Regions from separate parts of the Homo sapiens genome. Here region 1 is linked to region 2. Evidence: fine-mapped expression QTL. Tissue or cell type: whole blood. Region 2 holds a variant in brackets; the other region holds the start of a gene. All regions are shown on one strand. Distances are between the middles of the regions.

What was found. PIP is the estimated chance that this variant, and not a neighbour inherited with it, causes the effect.
Region 1: FCRLA starts here. The variant in region 2 is fine-mapped to the expression of FCRLA in whole blood (INTERVAL, PIP 0.97).

What each region holds. Positions count from the first base shown.
Region 1 is chr1:161,704,833-161,709,832 of GRCh38, forward strand. It overlaps FCRLA (Fc receptor like A), which reads left to right and starts at 2,397. Exons shown (of 5, transcript NM_032738.4): 1 at 2,397-2,511. The coding sequence starts at 2,433. RefSeq lists enhancers at 933-1,152, 2,693-2,872.
Region 2 is chr1:161,737,053-161,745,580 of GRCh38, forward strand. No RefSeq gene overlaps it. Among named protein-coding and RNA genes, the nearest start is that of DUSP12, 8.5 kb to the right of the region's middle. RefSeq lists enhancers at 1,946-2,155, 6,992-7,151. The variant G/A (reference allele first, on the strand shown) is at 3,953.

The DNA of each region.
Region 1 (5,000 bases), 34 kb before region 2:
CATCTCCCCCTGAGTATTCTGAGGTGATCCTGATGGAGGAACTTACTCAATAAACCGAATCTCAGTCTCCATGAACAAACAGCAGACCCAATGTTGCTTTTTCCTCGCAGTGAATCACATCTATTCTAAATAGTTCATTGATTAAGCTTCAAGCGAGTAAATTTTCCCAGCAGCTTAATGGAAATTTCAGTGTAAAGAACTTGATAGCTTCACCCCAAATCTTCAGAAGGCCCCTTGCCTTCCATATTGACAGTGGGGTCCTGCAAGGATTGCTGCAGATGGTATAGGGGAGGGTCTCTATCCAGGTAAGATGCTATGGTAAGGACAGTAAAGGAGAAAGGGTGACATAAGAAGAGAAAGATATCATGATTTGTTTAGAAGCCCCTTAGCCTCTGCCTAACCCTGAGGGTCTATGTTTTATGTAGTTTTAGGAGTGGCGATGCATCTAAACACATTTTATTTGTTTAATTCGTACACCTGTAATCCAGCACTTTGGGAGGCCGAGGTGGGCAGATCACGAGGTCAGAAGATCAAGACCATCCTGGCTAACAGGGTGAAACCCCATCTCTACTAAAAATTCAAAAAATTAGCCGGGCGTGATGGCACGCTCCTGTAGTCTCAGCTACTCGGGAGGCTGAGGCAGGAGAATGGCTTGAACCCTGGAGGCAGAGGTTGCAGTGAGCCGAGATCGCGCTACTGCACTCAAGCCTGGGCAACAGAGACTCCATCTCAAAAAAAAAAAAAAATTATTAAGGCTAGCTAGGCTTTTCTTCCTCTTCTGAGGCTTCACATCACATCAGCTGCAAGGCTTACTGCCTCACTGCCTTCCCCAGCACCCATATTCAACCACCCCTGGACTCCCTGGGGCCACCTGCACAGAAGCGTATGCCTCTCGATAATGGAAATTTTATTCTAAATGCTTATTTTAGACTCAGAAAGATCCACTCTCTTATGCCCGTGTGGTTGATATGTCTGCTCTGACCTGTGGTTTTTGCACAGTTGAAGGGTCATACTGTCCCTCTCTCTGCCTTCAAGGAGGACCAAACTACCTTCCCCCATTTCTCTCTCTCTCTTTTTTTTTTTTTTTGTGAGATGGAGTCTCGCTCTGTCACCCACACTAGAGTGCAGTGGTGCAATCTTGGCTCACTGCAACTTCTGCCTCCTGGGTTCAAATGATACTCATGCCTCAGCCTCTGAAGTAACTGGGACTACAGCCATGCACCACCATGCCCATCTAATTTTTTTTTTTTTTTTTCAGTAGAGATGGGGTTTCACCATACTGGCCAGGCTGGTCTTGAACTCCTGACCTCCAGTCCAGTGATCCGCCCACCCTGGCCTCCCAAAGTGCTGGGATTACAGAGGCATGAGCCACAGTGCCTGGCCTACCTTACCCCATTTCTGATGGCTCATTTCATCTCCAAATAACCTACTGGAGGCCTGGTGGGTGTTATGATGACAGAAAGGGGAGGAATGTGGCCACTGTGAAAAGACACATGGGCCCTACCATTAAGTAGGCCTCAAACAAATAGCAAACATTCAGAGGCAGGGACAATGGTTCCCAGGAGGCCATCTGGAACGGAAGGGAGAGGCTGTAGCCTCTATATTGCTCCTATTCCTGAGTCTCCTCAGGTTTCTCAAGATATCGGATGCCTCCTATCTCTAATTTCCTCAGGATCAGTGGCCTGAGCTTTGGCTATGAGCCTAAGCCCTGAGCTGACTGCTGGATCCTCTGGGAATAGATTTTCTTTTTCCTCTACTCTTTCCCAGTGGATTCTCCCTGCCTTGTACTCATATTTCCACTGAGACTGAGCAGACTTAGTCATGCTCCAGAAATAGAGAGCTGACACGAGTCTAGAGAAATTTGCATGCAAATTTGTGTGGGCTTTGGATAGTCAGAGCCTACTAGAGACTAATCTGATATCTAACTTGGTGCCGTGACTAATCTTCCTTCTCTGTCTCGCTACCTTCTAGTCACTAGAAACATATAAGTGTTGGAATGGGCAGGACATTTGAATTCTCATCATTGATTCTCCAGTGATTTTCTATTGGCCTTCAAACAACATCCCACCTTCTGTCCCCAGTTGCATCACCAGTGAAAAGGGTGGTTGTTGCACTGACCTTTCCCAGAGTGTACATGAAGGCCAGCTGGCTATCAGACAATGACATGCTTTGACAGGCCCCTGAGCTCTGTGAGTAAATTCTTGAACAGCTGAGAGTGCTACCATTTTGTCATAGCCCTAAGGGTGCAGATGATGCTGAAAGCGTGTTGGCCAAATCTGAATGATGAAAGCCAATTACAAACTAGAAAATGAAAACAGACCCCAGATGCAAGGAGATGAGACAGTTAAATTTACTTCCTCTTTTCTAATCTGAGAGGTTTCATGTTGAAGAAAATCAGTGTTGGGGTTGCAGGAGACCTAAACACAGTCACCATGAAGCTGGGCTGTGTCCTCATGGCCTGGGCCCTCTACCTTTCCCTTGGTGTGCTCTGGGTGGCCCAGATGCTACTGGGTAAGTAAAATATTTGAATATTGGTGTGGGAATGGAGCTTTGCTTACCTTGGGAGAAAGGACCAGAAGGAAAGAAACATGGACTAATTCTGGCCCTCCAAAGAAGCAGTATTCAGGTGGAATAAGAAGGGTAGGTATAAGAAAGTTTGGTGTACAGGATTGAATTACTTTCTGAATATAAAAATCTTCCATCCTGAAAGTCCCCTCTGATCATGATATCCTCTCTAGCTCTAATCTCAACTCTTTTCTTTCACTTGTGAGACAAGTTTTCTTAAAAGAATAGTTTGCACTTGCTATCTCCACTTCCTCACTTCTCACACGCTCCTCAATGCTTGCAGCCTGGCTTCCACTGGAATTGGTTTTGTCTAGGGCACAACGATCTCTATATTGACTGGGTTATGGCATGCTTTTCAGTTCATATCCTGCTGGACTTCTCTGCTGCACTGGGCTCTGTTGATCACTTACTCCTTCTTGCATTCTCTACTACCCTGGCTTCCATGGCACCATTTTCTCCTTGTACTACATGGACTTCTCTTGATCCCTTAATAGCTTCTCTTCTCTTCCCCTTAAACACTAGTGTTCTCTATAGTTATAGCCTTGCCTCTGTACTCCTCTTTCTTTACACAATCTCCTTCATGAGCTTATTTGTCTGTTTAATTTTTGCCACTATAACTCTGTATTTAAGAGTCCCAAATCATATCCCCAACCCTAACCATGCTTTTGAGCTTCACATTCAAATATCAAGCTTCATACCAGACATATCTACCTACATATCTCACAAGTGTCTCTGCACCATGTGACTAGAGTTGAACTTATCTGTCCTTTTGGCCCCTGCCTCATCTAATTCATTTTCCACTTTCTGATCTCAGCTAATGACACCAGCATCTACCCTTACAAGGCCATAAACCTCAGAAACAACCCAGACTCTTCCTTCTTTTTCATTCTCTAAATCTGATCAATCATTAGGTTTGGCCAATTTTACCTTCTAAATTGTTCATAGAAGCAGTCCCTTGCCTGGATCATCACTAATGTCTTAGGACAAGCCCTCATCCTCTATGACTTGGGCTATTCCAGTAAATTCCTAACTAATCTCCTCGTCCAAACCTTGTGTTCTTGAAATGAATTCTGTACCCTGCAGACAGAGTAATTTCTAAAACTCAAGTTTACCAGCCCAAATTCTTTATCATGGCACAAAAGGCCAAGCAGCCTCTACTTTTACCCTCTCAGCCTTGTAACTTATGCTCTAATAAATCTCAATCAGTTCATATTTACATACTCACACACCAGACTCTTGCCTGTCTCTAAGGCTTTGCTTATACCACTATCTCTACCTGAAATGAGTTCTTTCCATGGCACCCTACTCTCCTTCTCCTTGCAAATGTGTAGGTACCCCTAAAGACTCAGCTTAAATGGTATCTTTTCCAGGTAGCTTTTCTTGAATGCTTCTTTCTGCTCCAATGGCTGCTTGCGATACATTTTTCTTATTATAATATTTTCCTACTTATGCTGAAATAATATTTTCATCTACCTGTGTCTTCCACTAAATTGAGAGCTATTTGTGGGTAGTGACAATGTTTTTTTGTTTTTGTCTTGTGATAAGAACTGCAGACTTGGAATCAGATACTCCTGTTTCAAGCCCCTCTTCTATTTACCAGCTCTATGTCACTTTAGAAAATCACTTTTTCTATTTCTGGTTCAGTTTTCTCATTTGTAGAATGAAAATAATAATACCTACCACCTAAGGTTTATTGAGTGAGTTCCCAGTAACCCAACAAGATTTTATTTTATTTTATTTTATGTTTTGAGACAGGGTCTCGCTCTGCCACCCAGGCTGGAGTGCAGTGGTGCAATCACTGCTCACTGCAACCTTGACCTCTTGGGCTTAAGCAATCGTCCTATCTCAGCCTCCCAAGTAGCTGGGACCACAGGCAAGTGCCACCAGGCCTGGCCAATTTTTTAAAAAATTATTTGTTGAGACAGGGTCTCTCTATGTTCCCCAGGCTGGTCTCAAACTCCTGGGCTCAAGGGATCCTCCCACCTCAACCTCCCAAAGTGCTGTGATTATAAGCATGAGCCACCACGCCTGGATAAGATTTTATTTTTAAAAAGAAAAAATGGAGAGGAGGCAGAGCACAGATGAGTGACAGTGGAGGAACTGAAAAGAGGTAGCATTACAGTGAAGGGAGCGGAGAAAGGATGGAAAGAAAACACCTGGTACTGATGTGATGAGAATTAGGAAGTAGGGAGGGGTCTTGGTAAGGGACATGACAAAATCAAAGAAGAACGCTGGGCTATTGGGAGTGGAAGAGAATAAAGGCAAGTGGGGCACGAAATGACAGTCAGATGGAGTGAAGAAGTATGCACATGTGAATGGCCATGAGGCTGGAGGAGGGGGAGAATAGTTAGGGAGATAAAGAGCAGTCCCAGAGAAGGGAGAAATGTCACTTCCCTTGCCTAGGTCTACCATGAAGGTAAGAGATAGGTTGAGGA
Region 2 (8,528 bases):
TAACATACAAGTTACACTTTATTTAATTTTTCAAACATTATTATGAATATAGTCTATTTGAAAACTTCATACTGTATTAAAAAAATGTTAAGCCTATTTTTCTTGCCATCCTCCCACCCACTCCCTCAGTGGGTTATAGATGTAACCACTATTTAACAATTTGATGTGCACTCTTCCAGGCCTTTTATTTTAAAAAAGAGCTTTTTAAGTATATTATTATATTGATCAGGATTCAATTTCAGAGAACAGAATTAACTCTAGCTGGATTAAGGAGGAAGGAATTTATTACACAGTATTTAATAGCTTACAAAATGGTTGGGAGAGATGAAGAGACAGACTGTAGTTTGTGTTCTCAGCAAAGTTTCCCAATATCAGTTCAACAAGGGAGTTGCTGCCTCTTCTGAGATCAGAAATTTGCCAGCCTTGGGTCACACAGCCATTGCTATGATTAAGAAAACAGTCACGATAGAAGAGACACTGCTATTGCTACGGTGCCAAGACCATACCTGTCTTCTATGGTCCAAGGAATGGATGCTCAGGGCCCTGCCCCTAGCAACACAAAGCTAGATCCTGGACACTAGGTAGGTACTATTGCTGGTAAAGAAAAACCAAAATCTTTCTCAACCAGGTTTCCAGAAGCAACATCAGCTGCAGTAGTACAGCCTCCGCTTCACTTTTACCTTCCATGTGTTGTATAAGGGCTTCTGAATGGCCAGACTTAAATTACACCAAGCACCTCACTGCAGGGGAGTCACGGTCCCTTTTACATTTCCAGGCTCTGCAGTTCAGAAAGGCACTTGAGATGGTAATGAGTGGATGTTGACACCACCTCTACAGACAACAAAGGGGTTAGTCCTAGAATTTTATTGCTGGAAAAGACTTAGGGATTTAGTCTAACTTGTTAATTTGAGAGAAAGGAAATTGAGACCCAGAGAGCTGAAATGACTTGATAGTGATGGAATAGAAATAGAACTCCAGCCATTTACATGGAGTTGAATGTAGCCTAACGAGATAGCTTCCTCTCCAGGACTCGTGATATTCTCCAGCCCCATTGGGCTTATTGCCTATAAACTTACCAGAGAGATTGTTTTCATCTAAAGCACACCTCTTTGCTCCCCAACTTTTGTTTATGCAGTTCATTTTGGGGACCAAAATGCAAAACCTTATACCTTATATTTATCTCTTTTAAATTATGTCTTTGTTAATGTAATAAGACAATTTTTGATCCCAGTACAGTCCCTCCCAGCTTGTAACACATGCATATTAGGTAAGCATATCTTTATGCTCTAATCAAAATTACTTTTTTAAAAAATTGAATAAAGCAGATGAAAGAAATTTGGGTGGAGCTCTATCTCACTAGAAATCTATTTCTTGATCGCTACCTATCTGTGTTGTACTCTTTTGGTATGATTGTTTGACCAATTACCAGCCTAGTTGACTGTTCTCTCTCTATTTTTTTTGTATTTTTTTTTTTTTTTTGAGACAAAGTCTTAATCTGTCACTCAGGCTGGAGTGCAGTGGCACGATCTTGGCTCACTGCAACCTCTGCCTCCTGGGTTCAAGCAATCCTCCTGCCTCAGCCTCCAGAGTAGCTGGGATTACATGTGCTTGCCACCATGCCTGACTAATTTTTGTATTTTTAGTAGAGACAGGGTTTCGCCATATTGGCCAGGCTGAGTAGTTGACTGTTCTCATATTGAGCTCATAATTATCTCCCTTGTCCACAAGGAGGTCTGTCCAGAAGCCTAGGGAAGTACCCAGTATATGAACATTTCCCTAATCTGCCTGTCTACTCATCCTGTCAAAAAAAAAAAAAAAGAAAACCAAAAAAACAGACTATCAGGGCAAGACCATTCTTGGTAAGCTCATGCTGGCACCTAGTGGACACTGCTTCTTTTTAGGAGCATTTACAAGCCCTTCCTGCAGTCATCTGCCCTGAGAATATCATTTTGGATTGGAGGCAGCCTTAAGGTTTGATAGCCTGAAGGTATAGAAGCAGGTGGGACTTGCCCATGGAGTACCCCTGTAGCCCCAGTAAGGGGATTTGAGATCCTCTGTGAGAGGGCTGTGAACATGAAGCCTGTGAGGGACAAGGACACGAGACTGCAGGAGCCCTGGCCTATGACAGCACTGCGACTCTGTGGCCACCATAAGGGCGGATGTGGCCAGGGTGACTGAACACATGTTCCAAGACAGCTTGCAAAGTCTCAAAACTAATTCTCCTTTTTGCCTAGACATGCCAGGCACATTGAATAAAACAACTTCAAGTGTCTTAGCCTTCATGTCTCTGCCACCTTTGCCTCATCGCTCTTTCTACCACCCTTTCCAGGCCCTTATCCCTCATTTCTTTCACCCGTGGGAAAGACCCAGCTTAAAGTCACCTATTCTAAGAATTTTTCCCAGCTTCCTCCAGCTAAAATGAATTATTTCTTTGTCCCAGCCGCCAAAGTATTTTGTTTGTACTGTCAATTGAACGTATGGTTTGAGACATCTGGGAGAAAGAAGGGGATATATTTGGTGGTAAGGAGATATGTTTGTTGGCATGACATCTTAAAGGATTTGGAAATAATCTGTGGACTAACCTAAAGTTTACAGGACTTCTGATTTTTCTAGTTCAAAAATCCTTTAGGGAATATTAGAGAAGGCATTATTGGCCTTAACTTTTTTTGGATAGGGGCACAGAAGTTCAGAGAGCTTAACTGGCTGGGCCAAAGTTATTTAACTACTACGTGACAGAACCAAAATTTAAATCTAGGGTTTGTGCATGCAAGTCCAGAGCTCTTTCCACTATAACACACTGGCCTAAGTGCAGGCAGCAAAAGCTCTCCAAGGTTGTGACGGGACCCATGGCCATTCTCTGCATTTTGTCTGTCCGGGGAAGAATGGAGGGAGAGGGTTTGTGCAAAGTGTCACTCAGCAAACCCTGATGTGGAATGGGGAACATCTGTGGTCTCCCTTGCCCCACTCATCTGACTCTCTGTTTACCAATTTCTTCTTGAATCAAAAAAGGAACTGAGAGCATGGCCCAAATGTCACGAACCGGTTCCTGCCCCAGCATTTCTCAGAAGGACAGATAAACAATGTGATGGATGTGCTAATGTTGGGTTGGGTGGGGAGGGTCGGAAGTTGGGCAGGAAGAGTTATTTGCTCAGTTGGCCAAGTTATTCCTACGCAGTGAGAGGGCTTCAACTACCAATCCATTATCGCTGGTCCTAGGGTTCTGTAGAGCTGAAGTTATTGCCTCAGAATCTTGATAATAGGTGCTACAGAAGGAGGACACATCTTTACAAAGACGAGCCTCTAAATGAATATGCAGACTTAGGGATGTGGTTGTGGCAGGGTAGATGATTAAGATCTACTTTTCTCTAAGTTCTCATGGCCATTGAATTCCTGGACTGGTTGTGTAGTGATTTATCTCTGCCCAACAGCTTTTCTCACCAGTCACCCATAGCCATTTCTCCAGGCCACTTCTTCACCATAGCTCCAGCCTCTCCTGTTCTGCATCCTCTCTGAACTGCCTCTAGTGCAGTGGTTTAACTTAGAATTTCTTTATCGCACTAATGAGATATGTTGTCCATTCTTACTACGGCTCTGCAATGTGCCTATACTTATTCCTATTTTACATATTAAGGAGCTGAGACTTGGGAAATCAAATAACTTTTTAAGAGTACACGATTACCTATTAGTAAGTAGCAGGCCCAGATGCAGCTTGGGATTCACTTCTAGGTTTTCTCTGGCCTCAGACTATGTGCCTCAAAGACAGTGCTAAATTTGAACTCATCACGTCCTAGGTACCTACCTTCTATAGAATCATGTTATTATTCTTCCATTTATATTTTTGTTCGACATTGTTATTTGGGAGCCTCAAAGTATATTTTCACATCTGTCCTAGATCTTAAGTCGCATTAAGAACATAATTGTAAAAATTGACAAACAGTTACTGATAACTCAC[G/A]GATGCAGGAGGGCACTGGTGGCAATGCTGGAAATATTAATAGAAAGAGGAACTTGTATTTGGACCATGATGAGGAGGTGATGAGACAAAAGAAGGGAAATTTCTCTGTGACTGCTCAGCAGAGATCTGCACTTATAGTAAATGTTCTATAGATGATAATTATAAATCACAACTGTGACTATGCTCTAGAAGCCCACAAGTTTTGAGAAACAACTAGAGTAAGAAGACTGGGGTCATGTGTATCCGCATGCGGTCAGCCTTGTTACATAAAATGGGTGCCTTCTCAAAAAAGCAAGCCATCGCACACTTGACGATCTCTTAGCATTTATAAGAAATTTTTGCTTACTCAATATTCATCAAGATTGCAGTTTTAATGGTGATAAAAACAAATTGTGGCTGTGTGTGTGTGTGTGTGTGTGTGTGTGTGTGTGTGTTTGTGTGTATCTACTAATCCTAAAACAGAGAGCCTCTTCTCCTTTCCTTGACGGGAAAGCAACCCAGCTCCCTCTCTAAAGATAGCATTTCCTTCCTTGGGCCTAACATCCTGATTATGCTCTTACAGGGCTTCCATATTCATTTTTCCTTTTTTCAAGACAAGTGCAGAGAAAACGTATTTTACCAAAAGGCAAATAATGCCCCCTAGTGGCTAAAATCCTAAATACAGAAGCTGTTAAATTCACTCCCAGTTAGATATATACTGAGCCAGCCTCTGCGGGCATTCAGTAACAATCGAGATGTGTCTCCTGCCCCTATCCTTGAAGGAACTTATGCAGTAATTTTAGGGAATTGAGAAGGGAAATCTCACTTCTAAGGATACCATAATAAAATGTCAGTAAATGAACCCTTACGTTTCACCTCTTTTCCAGAATATAAATATCTATTATTCTTCATGGTGAAGAATTTTAATAATACTAGTTGAAATAGATAAATAAAAACTATATAAGAAGAAGTACATAATGCATTTCATGTAAGTCTCTCTCATAATGCCCACTCCCATAAATAACTAGTTAATGGTTTTATATACCATCTATCTTTCAACATTTTTCATATATGTGCATACATATATGTATTTTTAAAGTAAATGTGCTCAGACATTTCTACTTGTAAACCAGCTTTTTAAAACTTTATGATATAACCATACAATCCAGCAATCCCACTGCTAGGTATATACCCCAAAGAAAGGAAATCAGTATGTCAAAGAGATATCTGCACTTCCGTGTTTGCTGCAGCACTATTCACAGTAGCCAAGATATGGAAGCAACCTATGTGTCCATCGACAGATGAATGGATAAAGAAAATGTGGTACTCATGTGATAGAGTACTACTCAGCCATAGAAAGAATTAGATTCAGTCACTAGCAACAACATAGATGGAACTGTGGATCATTATGTGAGTGAAATAAGCCAGGTAGAGAAAGACAAACATCGCACGTTCTTACTTATTTATGGGATCTAAAAATCAAAACAATTGAACTTATGGAGATAGAGAGTAGAAGGATGGTTACCAGAGGCTGGGAAGGGTAGCTGGCGGTTAGGGAGGAGGTGAGGATGATTAATTGTTACCAAAAGAAAAAGAAATAGAATAAGGCCTAGTATTTGATAGCACAACAGGATGACTATACTCAATAATAATATAATTTTACATTTAAAAATAAGTAAAAGGGTGTAATTGGATTGTAGCACAAAGGATAAATGCTTGAGGGGATGGATACCCCATTTTCTGTAATGTGATTATTACACATTGCACGCCTATATCAAAACATCTCATGTACCCCATAAATATATACACCTAGTATGTACCCACAAAATAAAAAAATATTATTTTAAAAAACTTTCTGATATAGCTACCACATCCCTCTTTGTTATATTTCTTAGTAGTTGCCTAGTATTTCACTGAATTGATAAAACAACCCATTTAACCAATCTATTACTTGTAGTCATTTAGATGTCTCCAGTTATTCAATATTATAGACAGTGGATGCTGTATCGGCAGTCACCAAGATCATCCTCAGGCTCCCTCAGGCTCCCTCAGGCTCACTGATTTACTAGGAGGATTCACAGAACTCAGAAAAGCTGATATACAAAGTTATGGTTTATTAGAGTGAAAGGATACAGATTAAAATTCAGCGAAGGGAAAAGGCCCAGGGGTGAAGTTCAAGAGAAACCAGGTGCAAGCTTCCAGGTATGGCCTCCCAGAAGAATTTGTACAGAGATGTGCTTAATTTTCCCAGCAATGATGCATGGCAACATGTGTGAAGTATTGCCGAGCAGGAAGCTCACCCAAGCCTTGGGTTTTTATTGCGGGCCAGTTGCATGGGCATGCGTCACCTGCATGACTGACCTTACCTACTCAATTTCCAGCCTCCCGGAGGTCAAACTGATACAGCATGGCCCAGGGCCTCAGGCATACGGAAACAGGCTTTACCATAGTCACGCTGTTAGCATATCTAGTCAAACTGATATAGTGTGGCATGAGGAGTTGGTCAAGGGCCAGTCCTCCCGAAGACAGACCATTCCTTGAACTTGCAGGGCTTGAGCAATCAGAACCTGCAGAGTTAACCCTTTACTACACATACGTCTTTTATATTTATGATCTGAACACTGACTAGGCCTTCAGCAGCCCGTTCCCACAGGTCTGCTTCCATGTATGCTCTCCACAGAGAGTATTCACATATTCGCCACTCTCCTCAGGCAATTTTTCCTCAAACTGGCTATTCTTCTCACAGCTCTATCCTCACAGCATATAAACTAGGTTTTTATTTCACCCAGAAAATAGAAACCATCAGAAGAGAATGCCTTTAACTTCTTGCCGCCAAAACTCCTGAGCCTCCCTTCATCCCCACCCATTATTTTCTTCTTTCCTCTGGTTACCATGGAAAAGGTTAATCATCCACTGGGCTTTGGATCCCATTCCACCCCCTAATTAATTCAAGGACTCCTTTTCTCCTGTATCTTTAACTGTTTTCCCTCTTCTGATATGTCTACAACTTTTCCTATAGAAAAAAGAAAAAGAAAAGAAACACCTCCCTCTTGCACACTTCCCTTTGGGTATGGTCTCTCCTTTCTTTCATCTTGAAAGTTGAGTCCACACCTACCACCTCCATTTTCCTGCTTTCCACTTCCTCCTTGCCTCCTGCAATCAGGTTCCATTTCCCCAACCCCACTCCCAACAATCTCACCGAAACTACTCTCGCTATGGATACTAAGACCTTGTGATTGTTAAACCTGATGAAAGCTTTTAGTCCTCACTTTATTTGGCCTCTCTAGTATGACTCATCCTTGGTTTCTAAGATACCAAATTTTCTTATTATCTGTTCCACTATGACTCAGTTTCTGTTGTGGGTTCCTTTTGCTTATGTGTCCCTTAAATCTTATTTTTCCTCAGCAATTGCTCAATTCTTTTTGTATTTTATTCTCTCATCCTAGGCAATCTCATCAATCCTAGTTCATTCATAAAATGATGACTGGGGCTGGGCATGGTGGCTCACACCTGTATCCCAGCACTTTGGGAGGCCGAGGCAGGTGGATCACCTGAGGTCAGGAGTTCAAGACCAGCCTGGCCAACATAGTGAAACCCTGTCTCTACTAAAAATACAAAAAAAAAAAAAAAAAAAAAAAATTAGCCAGGCAGGGTTGTGCGCACCTGCAATCCCAGCTACTTGGGAGGCTGAGAATATCTTGAACTGAGGAAGAAGAATAGCTGAGGCAGGAAAATAGCTTGAACCCAGGAGGTGGAGGTTGCAGTGTGCTGAGATCGCACCACTGCACTCCAGCCTGGGCGACAGAGCAAGACTCCATCTCAAAAAGAAAAAAAAAAAATGATGATGATGATGATGATTGGATCTCTTTTTTATCTCTTTTCTGAGGGTCATATCCCAGTCTCCAGCCAGCCCAGCCAATGATGACATTTACTTTTCTCCAAACTGTCCCTCCTCCTTTGTTCCCCATCTTGGTGAATGAAATCATCATCCACTCAATCACTCAAACTAGAAATAAAGTTATCTCTTATTCCTCCCTCTTTCCTCTCTCATATCCATTTGGTCTCTAAGCCTCCTCCCTTCTGCCTTTTTAATCGCTCTTAAACACATTCCCTTCCTCTGTGTTTCCTCTACCAGCACCCTTCATTCCTTGACTCAATTATTGCCTTAATTCTTAACCAGACTCTGCCTCTAGAATTGTCCTCCCAGCCTATTCCACACACTGTAGTCAGGGTTGTTTTCTAAAATACAAATCAAGTGGCATTATTCTGCTGCTTAAACTTCTTTAGCATTTGCACGATCTTTAGGAAAAATTTAAAACTTCTTAGCAAGGCATACGTTGCCCTTATGATCTGGTCATGCCTATCTTTCCAGTGTCCTGAAAGCAACTGTGAACACCATCTGCATCATCCTTCTTTCTCCCTTTTCCAACAACACATTTACACTTCGATGGGGCTTTCTGGCCTTTGTGCCTTTGAAGATGTTGGTCCTTCCGGTTAGAACTTCTTTCCTCATCTCCCTCCTTTTTCCCTGACAAATTCCCACTCATCCTTCAAGATGCAGATCAAGCATCACCTCCTCTGGGAGGCCATCCCTAAT